Linked DNA regions of Homo sapiens: region 1 is linked to region 2. A link means that fine-mapping ties the variant in region 2 to the plasma level of a protein whose gene starts in the linked region. Region 2 holds a variant in brackets. A gene starts in the other region. All regions are shown on their forward strands.

Region 1 (15,506 bases), not on the chromosome of region 2:
CAGGTTGGAGCACAATGGTGCGATCTCGGCTCACTGCAACCTCTGCCTCCCGGGTTCAAGCGATTCTCCTGTCTTAGCCTCCCGATTAGCTGGGATTACAGGCGTCTGCCACAATGTCCGGCTGATTTTTGTATTTTTAGTTGAGACAGGGTTTCAGCATGTTGGCCAGGCTGGTCTGGAACTCCTGACCTCAGGTGAACTTCCCCCCTCGGCCTCCCAAAGTGCTGGGTTACAGGCGTGAGCCACCGTGCCCAGCCCAGCGATAATTTAAATTACAAGTATTTGGCCCGGCATTAGTGGTGCATGCCTGTAATCTCTGCACTTTGGGAGGTCAAAGACCAAGGATCCTGGCAACATATGAGACCCTGTCTCTACAAAGAAGAATCAATTTTTTCAATTAACTGTGGGTGGTGGTGGGTGCCTGTAGTCCTAGCTACTCAGGAGGCTGAGGCAGGAGGATCGCTTGAGCCCAGGAGTTGGAGGATGCAGTGAGCTCTGATGGCACCACTGCACCCCGGCGTGGGAGATCGAGACAGAGTGAGACGCCATCTCTAAAAAATAATAATAAATAAATAAATACGTATTTGGTGGTGATGGTTACAAGATCGTGTGCAGAATTTTAGTGTATATAAATGCCACCTTAATAAAAACTGATTTTTAGAAAATAATTCTTGGGAAAACCAAAACGTGCAGCAGGCAGGTAGACACATTTGTCAAAATGCATCAAACTCAGTAACAGCAGACCAAAGACTGCCTGTTCTCACTTATAAGTGGGATCTAAACTTCAGGTACTCATGGACATAAAGGTGGCAATAATGAACAGTGGGGATTGCCAGGGAGGGGTGAGGAAAAGGGGCATGAGGGTTGAAAATCTAACTGTTGAGTGCTGTGCTCACCATCTGGGTGACAGAGTCGCTCATACCCCAAACCTCAGCATCATGCAATATACTCAGGTAGGAGACTGGCACAGGTATCCCCTGAATCTAAAATAAAAGTTGATAAAGAGGGTCCCGGGCGCGGCGGCTCACAACTGTAATCCCAGCACTTTGGGAGGCCAAGGCGGGCAGGTCGCTTTGAGGCCAGGAGTTCGAGACCAGCCTGGGCAACATGGTGAAACCCCGTCTCCACTAAAAATACAAAAATTAGATGGGCGTGGTGGCGGGCACCTGTAATCCCAGCTACTTGGGAGGCTGATGCAGGAGAATCGCTTGAACCCGGGAGGCGGAGGTTGCAGTGAGCTGAGGTCGCACCGCTGCACTCCAGTTTGGGCAACAGAGCGAGACTCCGTCTCAAAAAAATGAAAAAATAAATAAAAGTTGATAAAGAGGGCTGGCCATGGTGGCTTATGCCTGTAATTCCAGCACTTTGGGAGGCCAAGGCAGGCAGATCACTTGAGGCCAGGAGTTTGAGACCAGCCTGGGCAACATGGTGAAACCCCATCTCTATGAAAAATACAAAAATTAGTTGGGCGTGGTGGTGTGTGCCTGTGGTCCCAGCACTTTGGGAGGCCGAAGTGGGTGGATCACTTGAGGTCAAGAGTTCGAGACCAACCTGGCCAACATGGAGAAACCCTGTCTCTACTAAAAATACAAAAATTAGCTGGGTGTAGTGGCGCGTGCCTGTGGTCCCACCTACTCAGGAGGCTGAGGCAGGAGAATTGCTTGAACCCGAGAGGCGAAGGTTGCAGTGAGCCGAGATTGTGCCACTGCACGCCAACCTGGGCAACAGAGTGAGACCCTGTCTCAAAAAAAAAAAAAAATTTAAAAAGTTGAAAAAGAAAAACAATGCATGAAACCAAACACATAAGATAGGCACATTCTACTGTATGTAAATTACACATCAACAAAATGGATTTTTCAAAAATCACTGTTTCTGGGATTTTATTAGATAGCATTTGGTACAAAATTGAGGTCAGTAGAGCTCAGTTTTACTGGTAGAAATCAGAGGAAGTTAAAGGATTTTATGTTTTAGAAGAGAATTAAGGGGCATATTGCCTTTTCCTGCTACTGAACCAAGAGTTTTCAAACTGGGTCCCTAGGGAACCCTAGAGGTTCCATGCCTACCCTGCTTTCTCCTCAATCTGTCATCACAGCTGCCCACTCCTTTTGTGTCGTTCAAAAGGTTTTACCCGAAGAGTTCTGAGAACAAAGGGTTTGAAAATCAGAGCTCTCAAAAAATGATTTTTCTTTTTCTTCTTTTTTTTTGAGACGGGATCTTGCTTTGTTGTCCAGGCTGGAGTGCAGTGATGCCATCATAGCTCATTGCAGTCTCAGCCTTCCTGGGCTCAAGTGATCCTCACACCCCAGCCTCCTCAGTAGCTGGGACTACCAGCATGGACCACCACACCCAGCTAATTTTTTTCCATTGATTGATTGATTGATTGATTGAGACCAAGGCTCACTCTGTCGCCCAGGCTGGAGTGCAGTGGTGCAATCTCAGCTCACTGCAACCTCCACCTCCTGGGTTCAAGTGATTTTCCTGCCTCAGCCTCCCGAGTAGCTGGGATTACAGGTGCCCGCCACCACGCCCATCTAATTTTTGTATTTTTAGTAGAGACGGGGTTTCGCCATGTTGGCCAGGCTGGTCTCGAACTCCTGACCTCAGGTGATCTGCCCACCTTGGCCTCCCAAAGTGCTGGGATTACAGGCGTGAACCACTGCGCCCGGCTTTTTCCCTTTTATCTTTGTAGAGATGGGGTCTTGTTATGTTGTCCAGGCTGGTCTCAAGCTCCTGGCCTCAAGCGATCCTCCTGCCTCAGCCTCCCAAAGCACAAGGATGACAGGCGTGAGCCACTGCACCTGGCAATAACATGGTTTCTGTCTCTTTTCAAGCTACCCTTTGTCCAGGGTGTGTCAAAGAGTAGCTCAAGAAGAGACAGAAGTCATGTCTTCAAGGAGGCAGGATGAGCTGGGACTTGAGCATGGGGAAATATCTGGACAAAAACGGACTTGAAAGTTCCTGCTAGGACCAGAAGAGACAGGGAGCCTGTGGAATTCACTTTTCCCCTCTAGATCCCCTGTCCCACAAATTTGCTTTCAGTTCCTCTAAATACACACACTCCATTCTGCCTCAGGTCCTTGGAACATGCAGTCCTCTCCCTCCACCCAGAAGGCCCTCCCTAACTGCCTCTCCTGGTTAACCCTTCTGCATCCTCCACCCTCCCTTCAAACATCTTTTCCTCCCCCCAAAATACTTTCTGGATTCCCCCATGTGGGGTTGATTTTTAGGTCAGAGGTTCTCACGGAAAAGGGTTCCTCTCCTTGGGAGATGGAAGGGTCCTTGAGGCTGATGGCTGATTGAGCATTCTATTGGTGTTTTTTGTTGTTGTTTTTTTGTTTTCTTTTTTTTAGAGATGGGGTCTTGCTCTGTTGTCCAGGCTGGAGTGCAGTGGTGCGATCATAGCTCACTGCAGTCTCCAACTCCTGGACTCAAGCGGTACTTCTGTCTCAGCCTCCTGAGTAGCTGGGACTACAGGAAGCCACCACCATCCCTGCCTAATGTTTTCTTACGTTTTGTACAGAGGGAGGGTCTCACTGTGTTGGCCAGGCTGGTCTTGAACTCCTGGGCTCAAGTGATCCACCCACCTCGGTCTCCTAAAGCACTGGGATTACAGGTGTGAGCCATGGCGCCCGGACTTTTTTTTTTTTTTTTGAGATGGAGTTTTGCTTTTTGTTGCCCAGGCTGGAAAGCAATGGCACAACCTTGGCTCACCACAACCTCCGCCTCCCGGGTTCAAGCAATTCTCCTGCCTCAGCCTCCCGAGTAACTAGGATTACAGCTACCCACCTGGTGTGCCACCACGCCTGGCTAATTTTGTGTTTTTAGTAGAAAAGGGGTTTCTCCATGTTGGTCACGCTGGTCTCGAACTCCCGACCTCAGGTGATCCACCCGCCTCGGCCTCCCAAAAGGCTGGGATTACAAGCATGAGCCACCGCGCCTGGCCCATTGCCCGGCCTTTTTATTGCTGTTCTGTTGGTGTCTGCCTTTCCCTGACTGACAAGGGCCAACTCGTCCCGGGCAAGGGCAGCATCCCTCTGCTTCTTAGTGTATGCATGGTGTTTAACACAGCATATGGAACATAATAGTTGCTCAATAAATATTGCCTGCGCTTTGAACCTGTGTGCACCGTTGCATTTACACAGGGCTTTAATACACATGCATCATGTTGATTGAAATATAAATACATAGAGAAAATTGTGCAAATGAGAGTTACAGCTGAAAACTTTTACAAAATTCCCCCCTCACTAGGGGCCTTCCTGGTATGCTTTTATCACCACTATCTCTGATTCCCCAGGACTCTTCCATCGTCATTTCCGACAGCATAAATTAGTTTTGTTTGTATTTCATTTATTATTATTATCATTATTGTGAGACGGAGTCTCTCTCTGTTGCCCAGGCTGGAGTGCAGTAGCATGATTTCAGCTCACTGCAACCTCCACCTCTTGGTTCAAGCGATTCTCCTCCCTCAGCATCCCGAGTAGCTGGGATTACAGGCACCTGCCGCTACACCTGGCTAATTTTTGTATTTTTAGGTATTTTTTTTTTTTTTTGAGACGGAGTCTTGCTCTGTCGCCCAGGCTGGAGTGCAGTGGCGCCATCTCGGCTCACTGCAAGCTCCGCCTCCCGGGTTCACACCGTTCTCCTGCCTCAGCCTCCCGAGGAGCTGGGACTGCAGGTGCCTGCCACCACGCCCGGCTAATTTTTTTGGATTTTTAGTAGAGATGGGGTTTCACCGTGTTAGCCAGGATGGTCTTGATCTCCTGACCTTGTGATCCGCCTGCCTTGGCCTCCCAAAGTGCTGGGATTACAGGCAGGAGCCACCGCGCCCGGCCCCCTTTTTTTTTAATAAATGGATTTGTATGGTATGTTCTTTTTGGGGTCTGGCTTCTATGCTAACATATGTTCGTGAGAATCAGCCACATGGTTGGGTGTAGCTGTAATCCATGGACAGTTGTCTCATTCTCACTCATCACCACATACCAGGGGTACAAAAAAATGTTTTCTGTAACGAGTCAGATAGTAAACATTCTCAGCTTTGGGGGCCCTACTGTCCAACCACTCTACAGCTGCTGAGCTCTGCCATGGACATGTGATAGCAGTCACTGATGATATATTAAAAAATGGGGCCAGGTGCAGTGGCTCATGCCTATAGTCTCAGCACTCTGGGAGGCCAAGGCGGGCGGATCACTTGAGATCAGGAGATCGAAGCCAGCCTGGCTAACATGGCGAAATCCCATCTCTACTAAAAATACAAAAATTAGCCGGACATGGTGGCGCACCTGCCTATAATCCCAGCTACTCGGGAGGCTGAGGCAGGAGAATCGCTTTAACCCGGGAGGCAGAGGTTGCGGTGAGCCAAGGTCGTGCCACTGCACTCCAGCCTGGGTGACAAGAGCGAGTCTCCCTCTCAAAAAAAAGGGGGTAGCAAACTGTGTGTGTGTGTTTGTAGGGACAGGATCTCACTATGTTGCTCAGGCTGCCCTCAAACTCCTGGGCTCAAACAATCCTCCTGCTTTGGTCTCTCAAGTAGCTAGGATGACAGGTGCCTGCCACTGAGCTTGGCAATTTTTTTTTTTTTTGAGACAGAGTTTCGCTCTTGTTGCCCAGGCTGGAGTGCAAGGGCACCATCTTGACTCACTGCAACCTCCACCTCCCGGGTTCAAGCAATTCTCCTGCCTCGGCCTCTCAAGTAGCTGGGATTACAGTCGCGTGCCACCACACCCGGCTAATTTTGTATTGTAAGTAGTGATGGGGTTTCACCACATTGGCCAGGCTGGTCTTGAACTCCTGACCTCAGGTGATCCACCCGCCTTAGCCTCCCAAAGTGCTGTGATTACAGGCATGAGCCACCGCACCCAGCTGACAATGTTTTAAGAAAATTTTCTTTATGGACTTTTTATGAAAATTATATGAATTTGAATTTTATATGATTTCTATTTTCACTAAACATTACAAATATTTTTTGGCTAGGCACAGTGGCTCATGCCTGTAATCTCAGTGCTTTGGGAAGCTAAGGTGGCAGGATCTTTTGAGGCCAGGAGTTTGAGACCAGCCTGGGCAATAGAGTGAGACCCCACCTCTACAAAAAAATTAAAAAAATTAGTTAGGTGTGGTGACACATGCCGTAGTCCCACCTACTCAAGAGGCTGATGAGGGGGGGATTGCTTGAGCCCAGGAGTTTGAGGCTGCAGTGAGCTATGATTGCACCATTGCACTCCAGCGTGGAAAACAGAGCCAGACTGTGTCTTTTTTAAAAAAAAAACAACTTTTTTTTCCCTATGGTTTAAAAATGTGAAAATTGGCAGTGCCTCAAAAAGTTAAACATAGAATTACCATATGATCAGGCAGCACTACTCCTGGACATACGCCCAGAAGAATTGAAAGCAGGAGCTGCAAACAGATATTTGCACATCTATGTTCAGAGCAGCATTATTCACAATAGCCAAAAGGCAGAAGCAGGCCAGGCACAGTGGCTCACACCTGTAATCCCAGGACTTTGGGAGGCCGAGGCAGGCGGATCACTCCAGATCAGGAGTTTGAGACCAGCCTGGCCAACATGGCAAAACCCCATCTCTACTAAAAATACAAAAGAAAAAAAAATTAGCCAGGTGTGGTGGTGGCACATGCCTGTAATCCTGGCTACTCGGAGGCCGAGGCAGGATAATCACTTAAACCCAGGAGTCAGAGGTTGCAGTGAGCCAAGATCGTGCCACTTGCACTCCAGCCTGGGTGACAAGAGCGAAACTCTGTCTCAAAAAAACAAAAAACAAAAACCTTTTAGATCCGCCATCTGTGGTGGAGCCGCCACCAAAATGTAGATTTTCCTGAAAACCCTTACAGGGAAGACCACCACCCTCGAGGCTGAACCCTCAGATATGGTAGAAAATGTAAAGGCCAAGATCCAGGGTAAAGAAAGAATTCCTCCTGATCAGCAAAGACAAGCACTGGAAGATGGGCGTACTCTGTCTGACTACAACATTCAAAAGGAGTCTCCTCTTCATCTTGTATTGAGAATTCGTGGTGGTGCTAAGGAAAGGAAGAAGTCTTTTTTTTATTTTTTTTGAGATGGAGTCTCGCTCTGTAGCTCAGGCTGGAGTGCAGTGGTGCAATCTCGGCTCACTGCAACCTCTGCCTCCCGGGTCCCAGTTCAAGCAATTCTCCTGCCTCAGCCTCCCGAGTAGCTGGGATTACAGGCACGTGCCACCACGCCCAGCTAATTTTTGTATTTTTAGTAGAGACAGGATTTCACCATGTTGGCCAGGCTGGTCTTGAACTCCTGACCTCGTGATCCACCTGCCTCGGCCTCCCAAAGTGCTGGGATTACAGGCCTGAGCCACTGAGCCCGGCCAGAAGAAGAAGTCTTACCTGCAAGACGAATAAGCACAAGAGAAAGAAGGTGAAGCTGGCTGTCCTGAAATATTATAAGGTGGATGAGAATGGCAAAATTAGTCACCTTCGTCGAGGTTGCCCTTCTGATGAATGTGGTGCTGCAGTGTTTATGGCAAGCCACTTTGACAGACATTATTGTGGCAAATGTTGTCTGACTTACTGCTTCAACAAACCAGAAGACAAATAACTGTATGAATTAACAAAAGACGGCCAGGCGCAGTGGCTTACACCTGTAATCCCAGCACTTTGGGAGGCCGAGACGGGCGGATCACAAGGTCAGGAGATCGAGACCATCCTGGCTAACATGGTGAAACCCCGTCTCTACTAAAAATACAAAAAAATTAGCTGGGCATGGTGGCGGGCGCCTATAGTCCCAGCTACTCGGGAGGCTGAGGCAGGAGAATGGAGTGAACCCGGGAGGCGGAGCTTGCAGTGAGCCGAGATCGTGCCACTGCACTCCAGCCAGGGCAACAGAGTGAGACTCCATCTCAAAAAAGAAAGAAAACCCACAAAAGACGTGAACTAACAAAAACAAACAAACAAACAAAAAAACAAAACAAAAGCTGGAAGCAACCCAAGTGTCCATCGATGGATGAAGGAATAAACACAACGTGGTTCATCCACACAAGGGAATGTGATACAGCCATGGAAAGGAAAACAGTTCTGACTCAGGCTACAGCAGGGATGAACCTTGGGGATATTATGCTCAGTGAAATAAGCAGATACAAAAGGACAAACACTGTGTGATTCCACTCCTAGGAGGTCCCTAGAGTCATCAGATCCATAGAGGCAGAAAGCAAGATGGAGGGTGCCAGGGGCTGGGGAGAGGGATAGGGAGTGAGTGTTTCATGGGGACAGAGTTTCAGTTTGGAAAGAGGAGAAAGTTCTGGAGATGGACGGCAGTGGTGGCTACATAACAACATGAATGTGCTTATTGCCACAGAATTGTGCTCTGAAAAATGGTTAAAATAGGCTGGGCATGGTGGCTCACACCTGTAATCCCGGCACTTTGGGAGGCTGAGGCGGGTGGATCACTTGAGGTCAGGAATTTGAGACCAGCCTGGCCAACATGGTGAAACCCCATCTCTACTAAAAATACAAAAAATTAGCCGGGCATGGTGGTGCACGCCTGTAATCCCAGCTACTCGGGAGGCTGAGGCAGGAGAATTGCTTGAACCCAGGAGGTGGAGGTTGCAGTGAGCCAAGATTGAGCCACTGTACTCCAGCCTGAGCAACTGAGTGAGACTCTGAAACAAAGAAACAAACAAAAGCAATGGTTAAAATGGAACAAGATGGTGCATACCTGTAGCTTCAGCTACTGGGGAGTCCAAGGTGGGAGGATTACTTGAAGCCAGGAGTCTGACACTAGCTTGGGCAACATAGCAAGACCCCGTCTCAAAAAAAAAAAAAAAAAGGCCGGGCACGGTGGTTCACGCCTGTAATCCCAGCACTTTGGGAGGCCAAGGCGGGCAGATCACAAGGTCAGGGGATCGAGACCATCCTGGCTAACACGGTGAAACTCCATCTCTACTAAAAAAAAAAAAATACAAAAAATTAGCTGGGCGTGGTGGCAGGCGCCTGTAGTCCCAGCTACTTGGGAGGCTGAAGCAGGAGAATGGCGTGAACCCAGGAGGCGGAGCTTGTAGTGAGCCGAGATCGCGCCACTGCACTCCAGCCTGGGCGACAGAGCAAGATTCCGTCTCAAAAAAGAAAAAAGTAAGTTATAATGGTAAGTTGTATGTTATATGTATTTTACCACAAAAAGGCCCGTTGTACTGGAAACAAAGAACAAATAAAAATGTAATAACCATTCCAAGCTCATGGGTGGTCCAAGAAGAAACATGAGCTGGACCTTGGCCCATGAGCAATGGCTTTCCAACTTCTGTTGCAGGTGATGCCATTGATGGAATAAACCATGATTTTTCTTTCTTCTTTTTGAGATGGAGTCTTGCTATGGTGCCCAAGCTAGTCATCCAGGATGGAGTGCAGGGGCACGATCTCAGTGCACTGCAACCTCCACATCCCGGGTTCAAGTGATTCTCCCACCTCAGCCTCCCAAGTAGCTGGGATTACAGGCACACGCCACCACGCCCAGTTAATTTTTGTATGTCTAATGGAGACAGGGTTTCATCATGTTGGCCAGGTTGGTCTCAAGCTCCTGACCTCAAGTGATCCGCCCGCCTTGGCCTCCCAAAGTGCTGGGATTACAGGCGTGAGCCACCGGCCATAAACCATGATTTTATTTACCAGTTCTATTGCTCATGGGCATTTGGGTATGAATGTGGTATGTCATTCTCACCCAGAGACATAATTATTATTACTATTTTAGAGAAGTGGTCTTGCTCTGTTGCCCAGACTGGAGTGCAGTGCTGTGATCATAAGTCACTGTAGCTTCGAACTCCCGGGCTCAAGCAATTCTCTCACGTCAGCCTCCTTAGTAGCTGGGACTACAAGTGCTTGTCCGCACCATGCCTAGCAAGAGGCATTAATTTTGTCATGTTTGCATCAGCCACCCTTGCATGCAAAACTCTGCTTGTCTACCTGTTCCTCAGACCACAGCCCCTGGCATTATCCCTGGGGCACCACCTCCTGACCAGTCTCTGGACATGAAGACGGAGGCCCTGTTGGAAGTGGGAAGGCTCCCTTCCTCCTCCAGCCCTTACTGTCTGCTCAGGGGCTTCCTCTTGGCCCCGGATGTGGGACCGGAGGGTTGGGGGCCCAGGGACTTATTAGCCAAGCCAGGAAGCCCCACCCCAAGAGGCCTCAAAGAAAGAGCTGCGGTGCAGGAATTCGTGTGCCGGATTTGGTTAGCTGAGCCCACCGAGAGGGTAAGTGACAGCTGCTCCTGCGCTTGCCATGGCACCAGCGGGGAGGCTGGGGTCAAGGCTGAGCCTCCATCCCTGTCCCCCACATGGGGGGACAGGGGTCCAGGTCCAGGGGCAGATCCTACTCCCTCCATGGGCCGGATCTTCCCCACAGGGCAGGGCTGATCCAGCTGTGGGTCTCTTGGTTCCCTCTTTCAGCGCCTGCAGGATGAAAGCTCTCTGTCTCCTCCTCCTCCCTGTCCTGGGGCTGTTGGTGTCTAGCAAGACCCTGTGCTCCATGGAAGAAGCCATCAATGAGAGGATCCAGGAGGTCGCCGGCTCCCTAAGTGAGGACCCCCCACTTGGGCAAGCTCCCCAAGGGTCTCAGAGACCTCACTGATCCCTGGCACAGACCTGACTCCAACCCAGCCCCAGCGCTCACCAAATCTCATCCTCAAATCCAACCAGATCATAAATTCAACCCCAACTCCACTCCCAACCCCTCCGACTGTCCCCACCTTATCCACGGCTCCAAACCCAATCCCCGCTCTCACTCCAAACCTTCCCTTACTCCAAAACACCCAACTCAAGACAGGGTCCTGGAGGCCAGTGAGCTCCTATGCCCACAGGGACCTAGCTCCAAACCAACAGGGCTAGGGGAGGATGGGGGAGGGACCGTTTGGTCTCACAGCTCCCCCTGTCTCCTTTCCTCCTGCCCCCCAGTATTTAGGGCAATAAGCAGCATTGGCCTGGAGTGCCAGAGCGTCACCTCCAGGGGGGACCTGGCTACTTGCCCCCGAGGTGAGTGCAGGAGACTGTTGTCCAGGCGCCCATTTCTGTTCCAAGTCCCCTGGGAATGCCCCCTCCCCGCCACGTTCCCCGTGTCCAGCCTCTACTCCCCTAGGATCTTGGTCCTGACTCCCAGCCTTCTCCGCCCACCATCTGGACACTGGTGTCCACCCTCACTCCCTGCCTCCAGTGCCCATTCAGTGGTTGGAGCCTCCAGCCGTCCCCGTCCCCACCCCCGCCCCCCCAACCCCCCTCCGCGCTCCCCACCCCCCTCCCGCTCCCACCCTCAGCCTCCCAGCTCAGAGTCCACGCTCCTGTGTTCCGGGCTGCAGGCTTCGCCGTCACCGGCTGCACTTGTGGCTCCGCCTGTGGCTCGTGGGATGTGCGCGCCGAGACCACATGTCACTGCCAGTGCGCGGGCATGGACTGGACCGGAGCGCGCTGCTGTCGTGTGCAGCCCTGAGGTCGCGCGCAGCGCGTGCACAGCGCGGGCGGAGGCGGCTCCAGGTCCGGAGGGGTTGCGGGGGAGCTGGAAATAAACCTGGAGATGATGATGATGATGATGATGATGATGATGGAGCGGATCTGAGCCCTGCGTGGTTTCTTTAGTAGGCCCGGAGGGACTGATCTAGCGTCTCCAAGAGAGTGGGGCGCGTAGCTGCTGGAGGGGGCGGGGACACCGCGACTTTCTACTGCCCCATCGCCCTTCCTCCTATGGGGTCTCCAACTGCTTCCTCCGAAAATAGGGCCTGAACTTCCTCTAGTGACGTCCCCACCCAAGGCTCATGGCTGCCTTCAAGAGGTGACGTCTCATCTTTGAGGCTACCTTGACGCTCACCCTGGGGTCTCCGACCTCCCCAGGAAGTGGCTGGGTCCTTTTCCCCCAGTCCTCATAATGAGGCTTCATCGAGGACCTGGGTCAGTCTGGGCAGTGGACGGGACCCTCCAGGGCCCCAAGACTCCAGGAGCCCCAGGTCAGGGTGGAACCCTGAATCATGTCTCAGCCCAGAGCTGGAACCTGTACCCCTCACTTCCTACCTGCAAGGAGGAATCCCCAAGGCACAGGCAAAGTTGGGTTACGGAGAGTCAGGGACGCCTACCTGACGTCACGCATCATCACAAGCTCACGTTTTCACACAGGCAAGTGCAGTTGTGAGTAGTTAGTTACAACCAGATACACGCAGGGTGCTTACCCCTTCCTGGATACTAGATTATGAAAACACAGAGCAGGGGACTTGTCTGCTCCTAGATCCCCCCCAGGGTTTCGTTTCTTCCCTTCCCTTCCCCTCCCCTCCCCTCCCCTCCCCTCCCCTCCCCTCCTCTCCCCTCTTCTCTTTTCTTTCTTTCTTTCTTTTTTTTTTTTTGAGACAGGGTCTCGCTCTGTTGCCCAGGCTGGAGTGCAGTGGTGCAATCTCGGCTCACCGCAACCTCTGCCTCCTGGGTTCAAGCGATTCTCCTGCCTCAGCCTCCCACGTAGCTGGGACTACAGGCGCTCGCCACCATACCTGGCTAATTTTTGTATTTTTAGTAGAGAAGGAGTTTCACCATGTTGGCTAGGTTGGTCTTGAGCTCCTGGCCTCAAGCGATTCACCCGCCTCAGCCTCCCAAAGTGCTGGGATTACATGCATGAGCCACCGCGCCTGGCCTATTTTTTAATTTTTATTTTCGAGACAAGGTCTTACTCTGGCGCCCAGGCTGGAGTGCAGTGGCACAATCTCGGCTCACTGCAACCTCTGCCTCCTGGGTTCAAGTGATATTCCTGCCTTAGCCTCTCAAGTAGCTGAGATTACAGGTGCCCACCACCATGCCCAGCTAATTTGTATTTTTAGTAGAGAGCGGGTTTCACCATGTTGGCCAGGCTAGTCTCAAACTCCTGACCTCAGGTGATCCACCCACCTCGGCCTTCCAAAGTGCTGGGATTACAGGCATGAGCCACTGCACCCAGCGCCCCCAGGGTTTAGAATAGAGCATGGAACACAGTAGACGTTCAGTAAATGTCTGTTGATCAGTAGCCACATGTGCACTTAGATACAGCACCGACGTGCACATACTGCACATGCACACACAGCTATACACAGCCACGTGCACACACAGAGTACACAACCCACCTACCACGGCCACATGGAGACACCACATCCACAGACACACCCATGTGCCCCTAGACACTCTTGGACACAGAAAGGCACCACCCCCCCGGCCAATGCACGGAGAATCGCAGATTTGACTATGGTGGGCAGAGATGATGCAGGACACAAACACACACATGCTCCAGGCAGACTCTTGCATTTCTGACTCTAGTCCCCACTGCACCTGGATAAGTATCTGATACCCTAGTGCAGCGATCCCCAACCTTTTTGGCACCAGAGACTGTTTTCATGGAAGACAGTTGGTGTGTGTATGGGGTAGGGGGGGAGCGGGGATGGTTTCTGGGTGATTCAAGCGCATTACATTTATTATTCACTTTATTTTTATTATTATGACATTGTAATATAGAATAAAATAATTCTACAACTCACCATAATGTGGAATCGGTGGGAGCCCTGAGCTTGTGTTCCTGCAACTAGATGGTCCCAGCTGAGGGTGATGGGAGACAGCGACAGATTACCAGGCATTTGATTCTTATAAGAAGTGAGAAAGCTACATCCCTCAAATGCGCAGTTCACGATGGGATTCTTGCTCCTATGAGAATCTAATGCTGCTGCTGGTCTGACAGGAGGTGGAGCTCAGGTGGTAATGCGAATGATGGGGAGTGGCTGTAAATACAGATGAAGCTTCTCTCGCTCGCCCACCACTCACCTCCTGCTGTGAGGCCCCGTTCCCAATGCCCGGTGGCTGGGGACCCCTGTTCTAGTGGGCAAAAGCCTCAGCATCCCCCGCCTCAGCTCCCTGGGGCACAAATTCAGGTGATTCGGGGTCCAGTTCTACAGGAAGCCTGACCCAGGAGTCTTGCCATCCAGTCCCTGATTTCCCACCACAGACTTCAGAATTCCTAGCACCTAGTCTTGAAAGGGATCCCAGACTCAAATGTCACACCTGGACAACAGATGATAGAGTGAGGTTCTGGTTTGCAGGATGTTTTGGACTCTCCTCCCACTGCCACCCACCCCCTGTGATGGTCCCAGCCCCCTGTCTGATGCTGGTGGCCATGAGCAGAGATTACAACCACTTCTGGTGCCAGGGACCCCACCCAGACTCCAGCCCAGGGATTCCCTTCCCAGACCCTCTCTCCTGACTCCACAGTGGTCATGGGGGTAGGGCAGGACCACTGAGTTAGAAGCATGGCCAGGGCCAGAGAGGGTGAGTCTAGTGCCTTGTGTGTGTCCCTGCCCCTTACTGCTGTGTGTGTGTGTTGGGGGCGGGGATGCTCCATTGTCCCCAGAACTATTTGTCTCCACCCCCATCCAATAGTCCTGTATCTGAAACCTAAGAGGGCTCTCTTCAGGTTCCTCAATTCCAACATAGACATTCTCCTGCCCCAGAGTGCAGACTTGGAGGTCATATCTGCCCAGGTGATGTGGACAGGCAAACCCCCTATTAGAGCCTCAATTTCCTCAATAGCTAATGCCTAGATCCCCTGTGGTAGGCAAGATATCCTCCTCCCTCCTCCCTCCTCCCTCCCTCCTTCCTCCTCCTCATCCTTCTCCTCCTCCTCCTTCTTCTTCTTCCTTTTTGAGATGGAGTCTCACTCTGTTGTCCAGGCTGGAGTGCAGTGGCACGATCTCAGCTCACTGCAACCTCCACCTCCAGGTTCAAGTGATTCTCCTGCTTCAGCCTCCTGAGTAGTTGGGATTGCAGGCGCCCACCACCACTCCTGGCTAATTTTTGTATTTTTAGTAGACACGGGGATTTCGCCATTTTGGCCAGGCTGGTCTCAAATTCCTGACCTTAAGTGATTCACCTGCCTCGGCCTTCCAAAGTGCTGGGATTACAGGCGTGGGCCACAGAGACCAGCCAAGGCAAGATTCTTCTGCTTGCAAGTACAACAGACCCCACTTCAAACTAGCTTGGGCAAAACTAAAAGGAAGTTTCTTGTTTGTGTAACTGACAAGCCCAGGGTTAGAACAACAGGTTCAGGTATGGCTTGGAACCAGGGTCTCAAATGATGTCTCCAGGACCCAGACTTCCTCTCGGGTCTGATTTTCTCAGCACTGCCTTTGCTCTCAAGTAAATTCTTCCCTGTCACAGCTCCCATTACATCCTCCCATTGTGGCAGCCCTAGTGAGGGCTGGAAAAAAAAGAGAATGCTTTTTCCCCCGTGGTTAAACCAATAAAAATCCCAGACCAGCGTTTCATTGGCTGGATCTTGCTCAAATGCCCGCCTCTCTGCCCAATCTTAGACTCTGGTTGGCTGGGTCTGGATCATTTGTCCACTGTAAACCAATCCCTAGCTTATGGTTTGCTGGATCTAGCACACATTTTCTTTCTTAAAAGAAAATTGAGAATGTTACCCTATGAAAGGGACGGGTGCTGGTCAGGCAGCTTTGCAGATGTTTCCCACATGACATGATTGCTTGTGGGCCTCTG
Region 2 (15,506 bases):
CCCAGCCCATCTGGGGTAGTTCTCTTATCTTAGCTCCTATTTAAGCAGCTCAGATCACTTCTGTTCTCAACCACAATAAGCAAGAAGTACTAGAAGCTTCTTGTCATGGAGCCAGCACTGGAGTTAATGAAGCAATATCCTAGGGACCACCAGCAGGCCCATAACGGGCTGGAAAGAAGGAAACCAGGTTAAGAGGAAAAGTGGGTGAGAGGCAAAGGGAGAGAAGGCAGGTGAGAAGGGGAGTGGGGGGAGAAGTAAAGAGGGGGGGTGGTTAGAAGAATGGGAGAGGGAAAATGGTTGAAAAAGGGGAAATTAGTCTACAACATGTTTCCACATCCCATTATGATCCCTCCACTTGACACATATCTACCCGCCTCCTGCCCTTTATTTAAAATTCACTTCAAGCTGGGTTTAGGTGGCACAGGCACCTATAATCCCAGCTACTCTGGAGGCTGACATGGAAGGATTGCTTGAGATCAGGAGTTCAAGACCAGCCTGGGCAACATAGTGAGATCCTATCTCAAACAGCAATAACAACAACAAACCCCCCTAAAAACCAACTCACTTCAAAGCCCCTCCTCTATTTCTAGAGGATTACTTTTCTAATGATCCAGACAACTACCTCTGAGGATACGCTGAATGGCTGTCTGAACCCAGGATATTTTGTTGAGCTTCCCCTTCTCCCAGAGATCCCACTGGCCATCTTTGTAGTCTTGAGCACTTCACATCATTGTAACAGCTGTCCATGGACCAGATACTGCCTCTCCTTATATTTGGCTATATCCTGTGGATAGGAGTTAGGAGGTACTTCTTTTGATGGAGGCCACATTAAGCCATGTAAATGTGGAAGTATAAATTAAATAAAAAGAACCCACATCTGCCATTCCGATTTCCAATTTTTACCATGGCCCCCAGCCAAGTAACCATCATATGGCACTCTTAGACAAACAATAGGGGACTTGTTTAAATCAAAATGCAAAATGGTGATGAACTGTAGAATATATATATTTAAACAAGTCATTTCCCCCACTGTAACATGGAGAGTTTAGCTGTGCATGCAGGGCCAGCTGGCAGAAGCTTGTAGGGCCTGGCTGGCTACCAGGACTGCTCGTTTACCTTGCCCTCCCTGGGGGAGGTGTGACGGCAGAGTTGCATTTTTATGGTATGCCCCAACATCCATCCTGCCTTTCTTGGTCTGGAGCTTTGTGAGTGTTTATACTCACAGCCATATGTAGATGCTGCCCCACAGCCCTCCTACTTGGATTTTCCTTTTAAAGTGAAGCCATCCTCCATGCCCTGCTCTGGTGGTGGACCAACTTATACGGAATTCTTACTGAGCTACCATGCACAAAGTGAGAGACCGTGAGCTGTTAGTCTGTCCAGAAAGTGACTGAAGGTCCAGCTATGCATTGCAGAGCACAGTGGGCTTTCCCTGGAAGAGCAGGTTTGGATCCTGGGGAATGTAATCTGTGAAAGCAGAGGGCCTTACCCACTCCTACCAGGGTTCTGGGTAGGCATTCAGCAAGGCCCCAGCAGTCTGCAAAAGGTACTGGGGTCCTCTTTTTAGGTTAGGGCCAAAGCCACAGCCTCCTCTGTTTCCCTTAGGATTGCTGCTGCTGGAGGAAGCCCACAGCTTCAATGCCATGCCTTTGCCTTTCCCTCCTAATATTAATCACCTGCCTTTCCAGAGAGCCCCCAGGGAGCCTCCAGAATCCTCATATTTTTCCATCTTTCTATTAGGCATCTTGTTCTCATTACTGTACTAACACTCAAGCTATGTGCGGAGAATGATGAAAAAGAGACCTTGGTGTGGGGCTTGGGATTTGTTCAAAGCCTGGGGAAACTGTTTTAGAGGGTGTATGTTTTTTATTCCTTTTACGAGAGATGCGTGTTTCCCTCCCTCTGTGACTTGTTTAAAAGTAAAGTTTAATATGCTGCCAGAGTAATTGCTGGTTAATAACTTAATAAACTATGTGCTAGGAATTATGGGAGAAAAGTAGTATCCAAGAAAACTTTTATTGTACAGTTTGGGGCTTGGAAGATATATAGCTTCAAATCTTATATAGAATGTTAACACAAGTCCCCTTTCTTTTCAAACCTTACTTTCTCCCTAAAAGCATAAAAAAGGATAAATAGGTGAGGTGGATGAAATCTTCTGGATGCTGCCTGAGCTATGTAAATCACAAGGGGAGAATTTCTAACAGCACCGTCAATAGGACCGTGGTCATGTGAATTTGGCAAGGCACACACTTGGAAATTAGCCCTGGTAAAAATAGTACGAATGATAATAACAATATCAACATCTTATTATATTAAAAGTTTTCTCTTTAAAAAGTATTCTTATTTTATCTTTATAAAATTCTTAAGAAGGAAGAAAAATAGAAATTATCATTCCCATTTTTATAAATCAACAAAGTAGCTCAAGTGACCTAGCCAAGACAAGGGCAGAAACCAAGAATAGAATCAAGGTTTTCTAGAAAACAAATTGTATCTATGTGTCCCAAACACAATCAGGTGAAAAGTGAGACATTGGGCCAAGCAATTAGAAACCACGTAGACTGGTGTTATATCCTGGTAGCCAGTCTGGTGAAAAGCAAGGCTCCAAGTGCAGCTGTTTCTGTGAGGACCAGCATAAAGGCACATTTTCAACGTGGCGATTATGTTGATAGAGACTTCGTTATTTGACAATAGATAGTTCCCGTATCTTCTTAGCACTTTTATGTTTACACTTCCATTACTCACTATGCCCTCCCCTGGTCTCCTCTATTTCACACCTTCATTTTAGAGCTTCCCACTTTACAGATGAAAACTCAGGCCTAAGGAAATTACAGGCCACACCTTGCTGGGCAGTAGTCCAGCAGAGGCCAGACCACTGACTTGCTAACCTTGAGTATTCTCTGCCTCTCCTCAATGGCACTGCACTGTGTTTTCTGGCTAGAGGCTTTCCATTCACCAAGTGCCTCTAGATGTGACTCTCCTTGTGGTTACCCAGGAACGCAGAGCCTGCGGACTGGTGAGGACCCGTCTGGCTTGGGGAGTCCTAGAGTGAGCCCCTGAGCTTGCGTGGGAAGGTGTTATTCCCAGAGGCACCCAGGCCAGTCTAATTGCTGAGGAAGCCTGATCATCACTGGCAGCTGAGGGGAAGGAAAGGCTAGTGAGACTTAGGAGGGCCTCTCTCCAAGATGCTCCCTTGGCCCATTCATGTAAGACCAGCTCATGCTGCCCACAGCCCTTGTGGAGGTGGCCGAAACCCCAGCCACACGGGACAAATGTATCAGGGCTGAGCAGCTTAATATGAGGGCAGATGTGCTCCTGCCAGGCCAGCGCACTGCCGTAAAGCCTGCGTCAGTTACGGACTTCAGTTAAAGGTGCTGTCTCTACCAGGTCACTACTGGAAAACAGCTGTGTGACCCGGGAGAACAAACTTATTTACATATTAAAATTTAGGGACAGCCAGCCAGCTGAGAGTGAGGAAAAGGGATATAGAATAGTTAAGTTTTGATGGCAAGAAGGTCTGGAGCATGAAGCCCTATCCATGGAAGGCAGCTCCTAAGAGAGGGCCCTTGGCAGCCCAAGGACATGGAGTTGTAGAATTTTCCACAAGGATGATCAGGCCTCGGGAGAGGAAGAAAGCAGGTCAAGAGGCAAAAAACAAACTTGCTATTTACATCCCTAATTTGAGCCATCTTCTGAGACAGCCATATCTTTCAAGTAGGAAGAAGTCGCCTGCCCCCGTGTCTATTACCTCTTCTACAAATATCAGCTTAGATTAGATCACTGTTTTGAAATAGGGAGTTAGGGTGCTTCTCTTAGTCCCTTCTGGGGCTACCAACAGGAAGGAAGCCATGCAGGTGGGTCTCCGGGCCCCCACCCCAGTTTAGACCATATTGAAACCATCTCTACTATTTTCAATATCTTGAATTTCCACATAAGCTTGTTTGAAGAATGAATTCCACTGGATTAGACGATCTCTAAATTCCCTTTACTGTTATAAATTCTGTGGTTCTATGGTACTCTTAGCAACATTGGAAAGACAAAACCTATGTGGTCTCAAGTGCATACAGATATCTCTATTCCTATTACTAGCTGCCCAGGCAGGCAACAGGGGCTTCCAGGTGACAAGGACTGCTAATAGAGAGATTTCTGTTAATCCTTAAGAGAGACTAGAAACTCTGATGACCACTAAGCGAGGTTGGAAAGATGTAAAGCATTTAGTGCATTTCATGTGCATATAGACAGCAGCCTACTTACCAGTGTCAGCCAGAGCTCACTAACTTCCTCTTAACTCCTGGATCCAGTCCATATTCCTCTGGCTGACATCTGAGGGTTTCCACAACTGGTCTCTTATCAAATCTTGCACTGCTCTCTAAAGCACAGCAGCTTTCCCTCAGCTTGATCTCCTCACTGGCCCATGATACATCACATGCACTCCCTCCAGTATCCCACTGCACATTTGGTCCACCATCTTGATATGCTCTTTTCCTACCACTTTTTGGTGTTTCCAAATCACACTCTGCTCTACCGCCCATCTCAAATATCTAACTCCTCTGATAAGGCCTTCCTTGACTATCTTAGTCCACATTCTTTTCTGAACTCTTGTACTTACTGTATGTACTTCTATGTATTTCACTGTCTAAATTTTCATTTAGATTCAACCATAACTGAACTCTGACAACAAAGACTCCATTATATATATCTAATACACACACACACACACACACACACACACATTAGGTTCCCACAATGCTGGGCGCTGTACTAAGATACCTTTTGTGTACTTGGGCAATGAGACCTTCACAATTTACTTGGCAACAAAGGTACTATACAAGTGTAACTTTACTCAGTCTCCAATCTGAGACAATTAATCTTATTATTATTATTTTTTTGAGACAGAATCTTGCTCTGTCACCCAGGCCGGAGTGCAGTGGCACGATCTTGGCTCACTGCAACCTCCAACTCCCAGGTTCAAACAATTCTTGTGCCTCAGCCTCCCAAGAAGCTGGGATTACAGGCCCATGCCACCATGCTAAAAAATTAACCTTATCTAATAATTAAACTCACCTATCCTTTAAAGACTTCTCCCTCTTCCTGAAGACTTCCTTGACACCCCTACCCTGACAAGCTGGCATTTATTTCTCCCTTCTCTGCTTCTGCAACACACTTTGACTAATTCTAGCATTGACACAATCTTGTTTATAGTTATTTAAATCCATACTTGTCTTACTTGTGGGGTTTCTGAAACAGAGACAATTATCGTTCATTCATATATTTCCCACTGTGCCTAAACCATTGTCTTGTAATATTTGTGACTCTGAATTGGCTTTAATTGACTGAGAATGGCTCAATGAAGGTAACAAAGGTGTTAATTTATCCAAAAGATGGAAGATGTTACATGCTAAAGGAAAAAACATAACCCACTACATTAGGGCTTTACATAATATTATGAGAATGTGCTGAAGACACTTAAAGCCTGCACTCCCTTGCAAGCTGAGCAATGACAACATTGTCCAAATCTTCCAACAGCAACACCCCAGTAAGCCAACAGCTACAAGTGGAACAAGACAGAGATTTCTGAGCCCTCTATTGAACTAACTGCCATCTCCAGGTTAGGTTTGCAGATTTCTATATTTAAAAAGTAGAAAGCATCAGCAGTTGGGGGTTGAATTCTTGGTGTGTGTGCAGTTGCGTAAAAGGACTATTTTTATTTCTCGCTGCGGTATGAAGAAGCTTTGATCTTGGACGACTTGCTCAAGGGCCCAGGATAATATATTGATCACTTCTGACTGTTTTCACCCAGACTCGTTTCCATAAGCTCAGTCTGTCAACAAGAAATACTTCATATATTTTCAAACTTCACTCTTCCTCAAACAGCTTATTCCTTTAAAACTTGAGGCTGTATTTGTAAAAGGGATATTTAATGAAGAAAATGTTTTGCACCTTGTCCCACTGGCTTGGGTTGAAATACGATAATGTTTCCTTTTGTATTTAAAAAACACAAACAGGATCTCATCCGGAGATATCATGACCTTAGACATTCCTGAGACGTCTGAAAGGGAAGTGAACATATGTCAGCATGCTTGGGTTTAAAATATACCAACTTCATTTCTCTCATCATTCAAATCTGCATGAGGCTCATGTGACTTTGAACAAGCTGTGCTGGAGGATTAAAGACGGGTCCTAATGAGAACCTCTCTCTTCCAGTAAAATCTAGGAATTGAAAAGCAGTTACTACCTCTTCCATTTTTTTCCTAAAAAAAAAAAATAACTTTTTCTAAAATTAAAAAAAGGAGGATCCTTTTTTTTGAAAGAAAAAAAGAAGGAAAGAAAGAAAGAAGAAAAAACGAGAGAAAGAAAAGAAACAAACCAAAAGGCAAAACATAACCCCTAGCAATGCCTGGAAACTTGCTCTGTGGCTAGCGATCCCTGTTAAGACTTGCTTCCCTTAAAGTTTTGGCACGGACCACAAATGATAGCCTTAAAATGCCACATGATCATCTGAATATTTTAACAATCATCCTGGACTGGATTCATTTCAACGGCATGGAAGTGAAACAGCAACTTGCAGCTGTGGCAAAAGGCTGTGGCCTCTTTCTATTTCAAGTCATTGCAAAAGAAGGATCTCTTTCTTCAGGAGGGGACCAGCCCATGAGGGATTTGGGAAGGAGCTAAAGGACAGTGGGAAAATGGAAGCAGACCTAAAACCCAGTATTTCTGCCTGGGAAGTGTAAGTCTCTTGTGTGAATAAATTTGGTGGTGAGAAAATAAATGCTGTTTTCAGCTGTTGTAAAGCAAAATAGAATCCTACACCAGAACTTCTGCAGTTAGCCACAGACCCCCTAGGGAAGAACTGGGATTGCCACACAAAAGCCTCAGCTTTGTCTCTATAAGCATATTTTCCTTAAACACTTAAATCCACAGGCCCTTCAGGAGCACACCACTCAGCTCAGTGGGGTCCAGTAAGTAAGACAGAAAAAGGAGAATAGATGGGAGTATGGATAGGGGGTGACAGGGGAGGAGACAGGAAAGTGACTGGAGTATGGATGAGGGGGATGGAGAAGCAGACGAGGCACACATGAAAGGGCACATGGAGGACTGCATGGGGGTGTGAAGGGCACTTACAGGAAAGCTGGACAGGGAAGTGGATAGATTATTAGAATTAACTTGGGGTAGCAAGTCATTAGGTCTGGTACATTGAGCAGGCTTTCAACAAACATTAGCTCCCTCTACCATCTCTTCCCCTCATCAGCACTGTTTTATGCAAAAAATTTATTCCCAAGGTTGCTTTCCTTGTAACCTTGGAACCTGGTCTTGTATTTCTGAGAGCCTGTTTTTCTCACCAGAATATCAGACTGTTATTTTTAAAAATGATAAACACACTGCATGCCAACAAAGCACTGGTCCCAAAAAATTAGCC[A/G]GGCGTGGTGGCGGGCGCCTGTAGTCCCAGCTACTCGGGAGGCTCAGGCAGGAGAATGGCGTGAACCTGGGAGGCGGAGCTTGCAGTGAGCCGAGATCGCGCCACTGCACTCCAGCCTGGGCGACAGAGCGAGACTCCGTCTCAAAACAAAAAAAAAAACAAAAAAAACACTGGTCCCATACAGGGCACTGAGGCCACTGGGATGGCGGCCCAGACAACGGAGTATGGATTTCCCATAGAGAGCCCTGGGGCCATGAAGCCCCTCAACACAGGTGATCCCAGGTGGGTAGGGAGAGAATCTTGGGCTGATCCCTTCAGTAGCCTCAGCCCTCTCCTGTAGCTCCAAGCTCAGCCACAAGCCCTTGAGAATGAGGCAATGGGGATGGGACTGTTTCAAATGGGGGAGTTGGAAGATCACAGAGCCTGGCACTCTGACCCTGGCTCTTCAAGGTACGTACTCTGTCCCCTGGGAGCTGGTCAAAATGGAGGATCTCAGGCTCCACCCAGACCTAGTGAATGAGAGTCTTCATTCTAATAAGATTCCCAGGTGATTCACGTGCACATTTTCTTTCTGAGAATCACTGTTCTAGAGAAGGCTTAAATTACTGCCATGCAAAACCCTCACATAAAAACACTGGATAGATGGAGGCAGTGTGGTCAAGTACAAAGAGCCCAGTAAGGTGCCGGGAGCTAAGCCCTCAACAAATGATAGTAGTTGTCAGGTAGGATGTTAATTCTGGTGAACTGTGTGAAAACGGATAAATCCTCCAGCCTCTGTGGGCTGTAGTACTCCACATGTACAGGGGTGAGAGTAGACTCTTAATACAATAAACTTCATGAGATTCCTTCCAGTTCTAAAATTCTAGGTCAATGATTCGATTTGATAAGACTCTGTTCTGTTGCTCTCTTTACACTGAAGTAGTGGTTTTAATATACAGTTGTAGTATTTGATATGGCCTGGCATACAGCAGGGCTCAATAGGTATTTGTTGAATGAAGTAATACAGGGATAGTTATTCTATTTAAGCTTCAACTTAAAAAAACTGGGCTGAGTGTGGTGGCTCATGTCTGTAATGCCAGCACTTTGGGAGGCCAAGGCAGGAGGATCACTTAAGGCCAGGGGTACTAAACCAGCCTGGGAACAGAGCAAGCCCCTGTCTCTACTTTAAAAAAAAAAAAAAAAAAGGGCCAGGAGTGGTGGCTCACATCTGTAATCTCAGCACTTTGGGAGGCCGAGGCAGGTGGATCATGAGGTCAGGAGATCGAGACCATCCTGGCTAACATGGTGAAATCCCATCTTACTAAAAATACAAAACCTTAGCCGGGTGTGGTGGCGGGCGCCTGCAGTCCCAGCTACTCAGGAGGCTGAGGCAGGAGAATGGCGTGAACCCCAGAGGTGGAGCTTGCAGTGAGCTGAGATCATGCCACTGCACTCCAGCCTGGGTGACAGAGTGAGACTCCATCTCAAAAAAAAAAAAAGTTAGCCAGGTCCAGTGGCACACACCTATAGTCTCAGTTACTTGGGAGCTGAGGTGAGAGGATCACTTGAGCCCAGGAGTTCAAGGCTGCACTGAGCTATGACCATGCCACTGCATTCCAGGCTGGGTGACAGAATGAAACCATGTCTCTCAAAAAAACCATTTTTTTTTGTTTGTTTTTGAGACAGAGTCTCACTCTGTCGCTCAGGCTGGAGTGCAGTGGCGCGATCTCGGCTCACCGTAAACTCCGCCTCCCAGGTTCAAGTGATTCTCCTGCCTCAGCCTCCCGAGTAGCTGGGACTACAGGTGCATGCCACCATGCCTGGCTAATTTTTGTATTTTTAGTAGAGATGGGGTTTCGCCATGTTGGCCAGGCTGGTCTTGAACTCCTGACCTCCGGTGACCCACCTGCCTCAGCCTCCCAAAGTGCTGGGGTAACAAGTATGAGCCACTGCACTCGTCCCCAATTTTTTTTTTTTGAAGTGCCATAAGCCTCCACAACAATCAACCACTAACCACACCACAGTATCAGGTTTAAATGGTACTTCTGAGGGCCAGTGAGATAACTTGAAATATCTGAATCAGAAACTCTGAGGGTAAGGCCTGGCATCACAGGTTTTAAAACCTCTCCAGATGATTCTAAAAACGCAGCCATGAACATTAAGAACTAGCATCAGCCAATCTGCTACTTAATAAATGCCAATAGCAAGGGATACAAACTCCTGTTTCCATGGGAGCTCAGGTAACCTAATGAGAGACGCGGCTGGGCGGGGGCCGTGCAGAAGCACAGAGTATACTCATCAAGGGAGGATGGCTGGGACTTAGCTCTGGCCCATTGTGGCCACGTGGGAATTTGAGCCTGGTGGTGCCAGATCTTCCAGTTTTTCAAAAGAAGCTGTAGATCTTGATTTACTATGAAATTTCCTCAGTTTAAAATGTCAGCAAATTATTTAAAAAAAGAAATGTAAATCCTCCACAAGTCAAACAAAACACAACTATGGCCAATCTGACCCGAATGCACTGTCAGTTTGAGCCCTCTGGCTGACACTGCACAGCAGGCCTGGGCCTGAGCAGCACCCCAGGGAGGGTCCAGGGGAAGACCCCTTTTAAAGAAGACAAAACAAAATGCTAACGCAGGGCCATCTCTGTTTGGTAATATAGAAAGTAAAAACTGAAGAACAATCTGTACCCGTTTGACTTATCTGTTAACTCATGCCAAGCTGAAATGTTAACTAAAATGGCTGTGAGGCATGTGGTGTGTCTCCCCAGTTGTTTTCACTGTAGAAAAGATTTTTTTATATTAAGGCAGTTTTGAGAAGAGTTAATGAAATAATATTTACAAATCTCCTCATACGAAGCTTGGCACAGAGTAAGCATTCAAAACGTAAAAGTTTCCTCAACTGAATTTTTTATATCTTAGTTAAAATTTTGGTGGAGGTCTCTCACGCACTGTTGGTAGGCAGATGGACTTTTTTAGAAAACAATCTGGCAGTGTATACCAAGACTTTTTCCATTTCCCCTTGACCAATTTATTCCACTTCTGGAAATCAAACCTAAGGCAATAACCCACAATCACACACACTCATACACACACACACACACACACACACACCACACTCATGTACAAAGATTTTTCTGAAACATCATCTACGACACTAAACAAATGGGAAACAAACTGTATGCCAGCAATGGTTAGGTAAATTTAATGAGTAATTATTCAGGTGACAAAAATATGCTACCTTCAAAAATGATGTTTTCAAAGTTTTTTTTTCTTAATTGAAAAATAGGCAAAAGTATTTTATTTTTAGAGATGCACAGGTGGTAAAACTAGGAAGAAAAGCAAAGAAATAATTATCATAAAATGTCAAGACAATGATAACTTCAGATGAATGATGGGGTATATTTTCTTTTAAATATTTTCCATTAAAATGTTTTAAATTGTGATGAAATATACATAATATAAACTTTACCATCTTATCCATTTTTGAGTGTACAGTTTGCTAGTGTTAAGCACATCCATATTGTTGTGTAACAAATCACCAGAACTTTTTTTTTTTTTTTTTTTTGAGACAGAGTCTCCCTCTGTTGCCCAGGCTGGAGTGCAGTGGCACGATCTCGGCTCACTGCAACTTCCATCTCCCAGGTTCAAGCGATTCTCCTGCTTCAGCCTCCCAAGTAGCTGGGACTACAGGTGTGCGCAACCACACCTGGCTAATTTTTTGTATTTTTAGTAGAGATGGGTTTCACCATGTTGGCCAGGCTGGTCTTGAACTCCTGACCTCAAGTGATCTGCCCACCTCGGCCTCCCAAAGTGCTGCGATAACAGCTCTAAGCCACTGTACCCAGCCTCCAGAACCCTTTTCATTCTGTAAAATTAAAACACTATATCCATTAAACAATGCCCCATTTCCTCCTCTCTGTAGCCCCTGGCAACCACTATTCTACTTTCTGTCTCTAGGTCTTGACTACTCTATGTACTTTGTATTAGCAGAATCATATAGTATTTGTCTTTTTGTGATTGGCTTATTTCGCTTAGCATAATTTCTCCAAGATTCATCCATGTTGTGGCATATGTTGGAATTTCCTTCCTTTTCCAGGCTAAGTAATATTCTGGTGTATGTATATACCACATTTTGTTTATCCATTCATCATTCATCAATGGACACCTGAGCTGTTTCCATGTTTTAGCTATTGTGCATAATGCTGCTATGGAAACCTCTTTGAGACCCCACTCTCAAGTCTGTTGGGTATGTATTCAAAAGTGGAATTGTTGGATTAACATAGTAATTCTATTTTCAATTTTTTGAGGAAATATCATACTGTTTTCCACAGTAGCTGTATCACAAAGAGTTTGAAATAATAACAAATGCTCTCATGATACTATCGAGTGAAAAAAGGAAGGAAGCTATAACTTACATATACAGTATAGCCTTGACAAAGTTAAAAAAAAGCATAGGAAAAAAGATGAAGGAATTACATACAACTCTTAACCAATAATAGTGATTTATGGATTGTGGTAAGAATAGACTTTTACTCTCTTCCAAATTTTGTACTTGACTAATTTTCTATGATAAGCATATAGCAGCACACAACAATGAAGGGGAAAACGGTGAAAAAATTTTAGTAGGGCACATATTTATTTCTGGTTATCACATCCACTGCATGCATGCATTCATTCATTCATTTTCTTGAGACAGAGTCTTTCTCTGTTGCTCGGGTTGGAATGCAGTGGCATGATCTCAGCTCACTGAAACCTCCGCCTCCCAGGTTCAAGCGATTCTCATGCCTCAGCCTCCCAAGTAGTTGGGACTACAGGCGTGTGCCACCACTCAGCTAATTTTTTGTATTTTTAGTAGAGATTGGGTTTCACCATGTTGGCCAGGCTGGTCTCAAACTCCTGGCCTTATGTGATCCACCCACCTTGGCCTCCCAAAGTGCTAGGGTTACAGGCATGAGCCACCGCACCCAGCCCTGACTAGTCCATTTAGTTCACTAAGTTTACCAAAAGAAACACACATGCAATATATAAACATACACATACACACTTATTTTTTTCCTTTTATAACCAAAGAAGGAGAAACTAGATAGCCAAATTCACTTCTGAAAAGTTTAAGCCTAATATAATACTAATTACAACTCTTAGCCAAAGTAAATAAGCGATCTAGCTGGGACAGCTGAGCTGGAATCTGCAAGCAGCAAGGGTGGCAGGGCATGGGGCTCATGTCTGTAATCCCAGCTTACTTGGAAGACTCTGGTGGGAGGACTGCTTGAGCCCAGGAGTTCAAGTCCAGCATAGGCAACACAGCCAGACCTCATCTCTAAAACTAAAAAATAAATAAATAAATAAAAAACTTAAAAAAAAAAGTTTTTGTAATTAGCATGAGTGTCAGACTGGGTGATTCCTCTCTCATGATGCCCACTGCCATCCTTTCCAGGACAGCAGCAGATCCCTACTAGACGGCTACTCTCATTTCGTTTCTGGTCTAGGTCAGTTTAGTTTTCTTTCAGTAGTTAGTAAACTGCTTTAGACAGTAAACTGGATCAAGAAGGGAGGAGTGGAGGAAAACAGGAAGGAAAGGACTTGAAGGATTAATGAGCTGATTTCCATTAAGGCTTTGACATCCTGGAATGAAAAGCAGCCTGTAAGAGCAGAAGCCCAGTCCTTTCCTGAAGCCATGTTGCCAGCTGACCACTCATCACCAAAAATTCCCCAACAACTCCATGGCTATTGCTTAATCACCTCATATAAATCCCTATTAATCTTGCAAAGTCAAAACACAAATATAGGACAAAAGTCTTCATTTTATGTTCCCTCAATTTCAGAGTCAAAATTTAAAGACTGAATTGGTTATCCAATAGTGCCAATCAATTTTTTAAAAACTTTCTTTGAGAACAAAAGGACAAATACATATCCACTAGCATTTTTGTACTTATGGGACTGAAGAAACTCAGGCTAATGATCAAATAAATTAGGGAAGGAAAAGGGTGTCGGTGTTAAAATTTAAGGCAACATTTTTTTCTTTGCAAAAACATTAATTTTTCATAGCTTATATTCAAAAGATACAGAAAATCCTTAGTAGACTCAAAGGAACATTTATTTTTCTTTCATGTGTAAATTACCAGGGACATAAAAAAGCCTCTTCAGTAGTTGAATTTGGAATACTCTGCACTGTAATATCTTCATGGGAAAGGCAGGTGAGAAAGTAAAGACAGGGGTCTGTTCTGAGAAGGGACCGCTAGGACGAGAGGGGGTGTGTCTGAGCATGGAGTTAACTAGTATAGACAGACAACTCCCAGAACAAGAGGACCTCAGGGACAGGGCAGGCATGTGACACCGAGGCTTCATCACTTATACCCAGTTCTATAATTTGCTATTTAGGAACCTCAAAGTTATCCTGTCAATGATGTGGATAATATAGAAAAACTGATACATAGCTTTGGAATGCATTGTGCTGTCTGGCAGTATGTTTTCCTTCCAAACTCTATTTCAGGCTCTGAACACATTCTGATTAACACTTGTAAAAGTGTGCTGGGGAGCAAAAGGAAGCCTGGTGTTAGGAACCATTTACAGACCACCCACAAAGCGGAAAGTTCACACTTGGATAATAGAGAGTTGACTGTACTGGAAACAGAAAAGTGGCTGTCCTACATTCTGGGCAAGGAAGGTGGAAACCCAGTAAATTGCAGTGATTCATTCCTTTGTCTTCTAGAGCTGGAAAATCATGGAGAAAAATCAGAAGTGGGGTGGGGAGCAGAGGGAATGAGAATGGAAAGCCCAATTAGAAAACAGCAATAGGGACCACAGGACAGGTTTTAAAAGGCCAGGAGGACTTCCCTTCCTCTTAGCTGCAGAGGAAGCTGATGGCAGCTTTGTCAGCCATCTTCAGGCACTGCACAACATGAAGGTCCACTCAATGGCTGGCCTGCCGCTCCATCTCCTCCATCTCATCCAACAAGAGGTAATGGACTCAGGAAGCCAGTGGATAATGACTTTCTACGAGATGCATGAAGGAGTAGCAAGCTAAGGGGGCAGAAACTCCTTCCTTACAGCACTTTAAGAACTAGAGTGTTAGGATACTTGGGACAGTCCTGGCTAGAAGCAGGTTTCAGAGGATAATTTCTGGACAGCTCTGACTTCTTGATCCCCAGAAATAACAGGTAGGAAGAAGTGGCCTATTACCTGGCAAACAGCTGAGGGTACTGATGTGATATGTATCTTTGGGATGCTAAGAGCCACACAGAAGGCAAATGGTACTAGGCGTGGGTAAACACTTCATGGGTAAGCAACTCCTACTCTCTAAATAAAATGGAGAAAACAAGTTGGGTGCAGTGGCTCACATGCCTGTAATCCCAGCACTTTGGGAGGCCGACGCAGGTGGATCACCTGAGCTCAGGAGTTCGAGACCAGCCTGGGCAATCTGTTGAAACTCCTTCTCCACCAAAAAACCCCACAAAAATTAGCCAGGCATAGTGGCGTGTGCCTGTAGTCCCAGCTGCTCAGGGGACTGAGGCGGAGGGATCACTTCAGCCCCAGGAGGTCAAGGCTACAGTGAGCCGTGGTAGCGCCACTGCACTCTAACCTGGGTGACAGAGCATGACCCTGTCTAAAAAAAGGGAGAATAGACTAACAGACTAAAAATGAGAGGCTCCCAATAACTTTACCGGCATTTCAGACACAAGATAATTTCTCCATCAATATCCCTATCCAAAGCTATTAATGTTGAGACAATAATTGAGATACACACATCCACACATTGGGAAATCCACCGCTGGCTCCTTCACCAAAAGGTTTCTTACAGGAGCTTTCACTGTGTGGCCTGGGCATATTTCCTGAGCCCCATTCTCTGCCACTTGTGCCTTACACTTTAGGTTCCAGAGGGCTAACTTCCTTATGGTTCTGCAAACCTACAGTGCCGTTTCATATTGCTGTGTCTCTGCCTATGCCGTTACCTAAGCCTGGAATTCCCCTACCTGTGTTGGCCACTTGGCAAAATTCTGGCTCACTCTTGATGGCCAGTTTGATGTCAGCCCTCTCTCACCCCTCTTCTGGCGTAATGCTGTACCTACTACAGACATTTGTTATAATACTTAATATACCAGATGAAAATTATTTAT

Alleles and levels. Alleles are on the strand shown, and positions count from the first base shown. The strength of an association depends on the size of the effect and on how common the allele is.
For the plasma level of the protein whose gene starts at base 10,145 in region 1, allele A in region 2 goes with a higher level than allele G (weak association).

The links. A credible set is the group of variants that fine-mapping cannot tell apart. PIP is the posterior inclusion probability: the model's chance that the variant is causal. The UK Biobank Pharma Proteomics Project read protein levels with antibody pairs (Olink). The fine-mapping took linkage between variants from a reference panel, not from the people measured, so its PIPs are less certain.
Region 1: RETN starts here. The variant in region 2 is the best candidate, but not a certain one, in a credible set for the plasma level of the RETN protein (UK Biobank, PIP 0.66).

The regions. Positions count from the first base shown.
Region 1 is chr19:7,658,905-7,674,410 of GRCh38, forward strand. RETN (resistin) reads left to right here and starts at 10,145. Exons shown (of 4, transcript NM_020415.4): 1 at 10,145-10,217; 2 at 10,413-10,540; 3 at 10,917-10,994; 4 at 11,315-11,551. The coding sequence starts at 10,423. The coding sequence ends at 11,445. It also overlaps the pseudogene RPS27AP19.
Region 2 is chr2:43,327,218-43,342,723 of GRCh38, forward strand. All of the region lies in intron 30 of THADA (THADA armadillo repeat containing), which reads right to left. Among named protein-coding and RNA genes, the nearest start is that of LINC01126, 110 kb to the left of the region's middle. RefSeq lists an enhancer at 9,771-9,860. The variant A/G (reference allele first, on the strand shown) is at 7,415.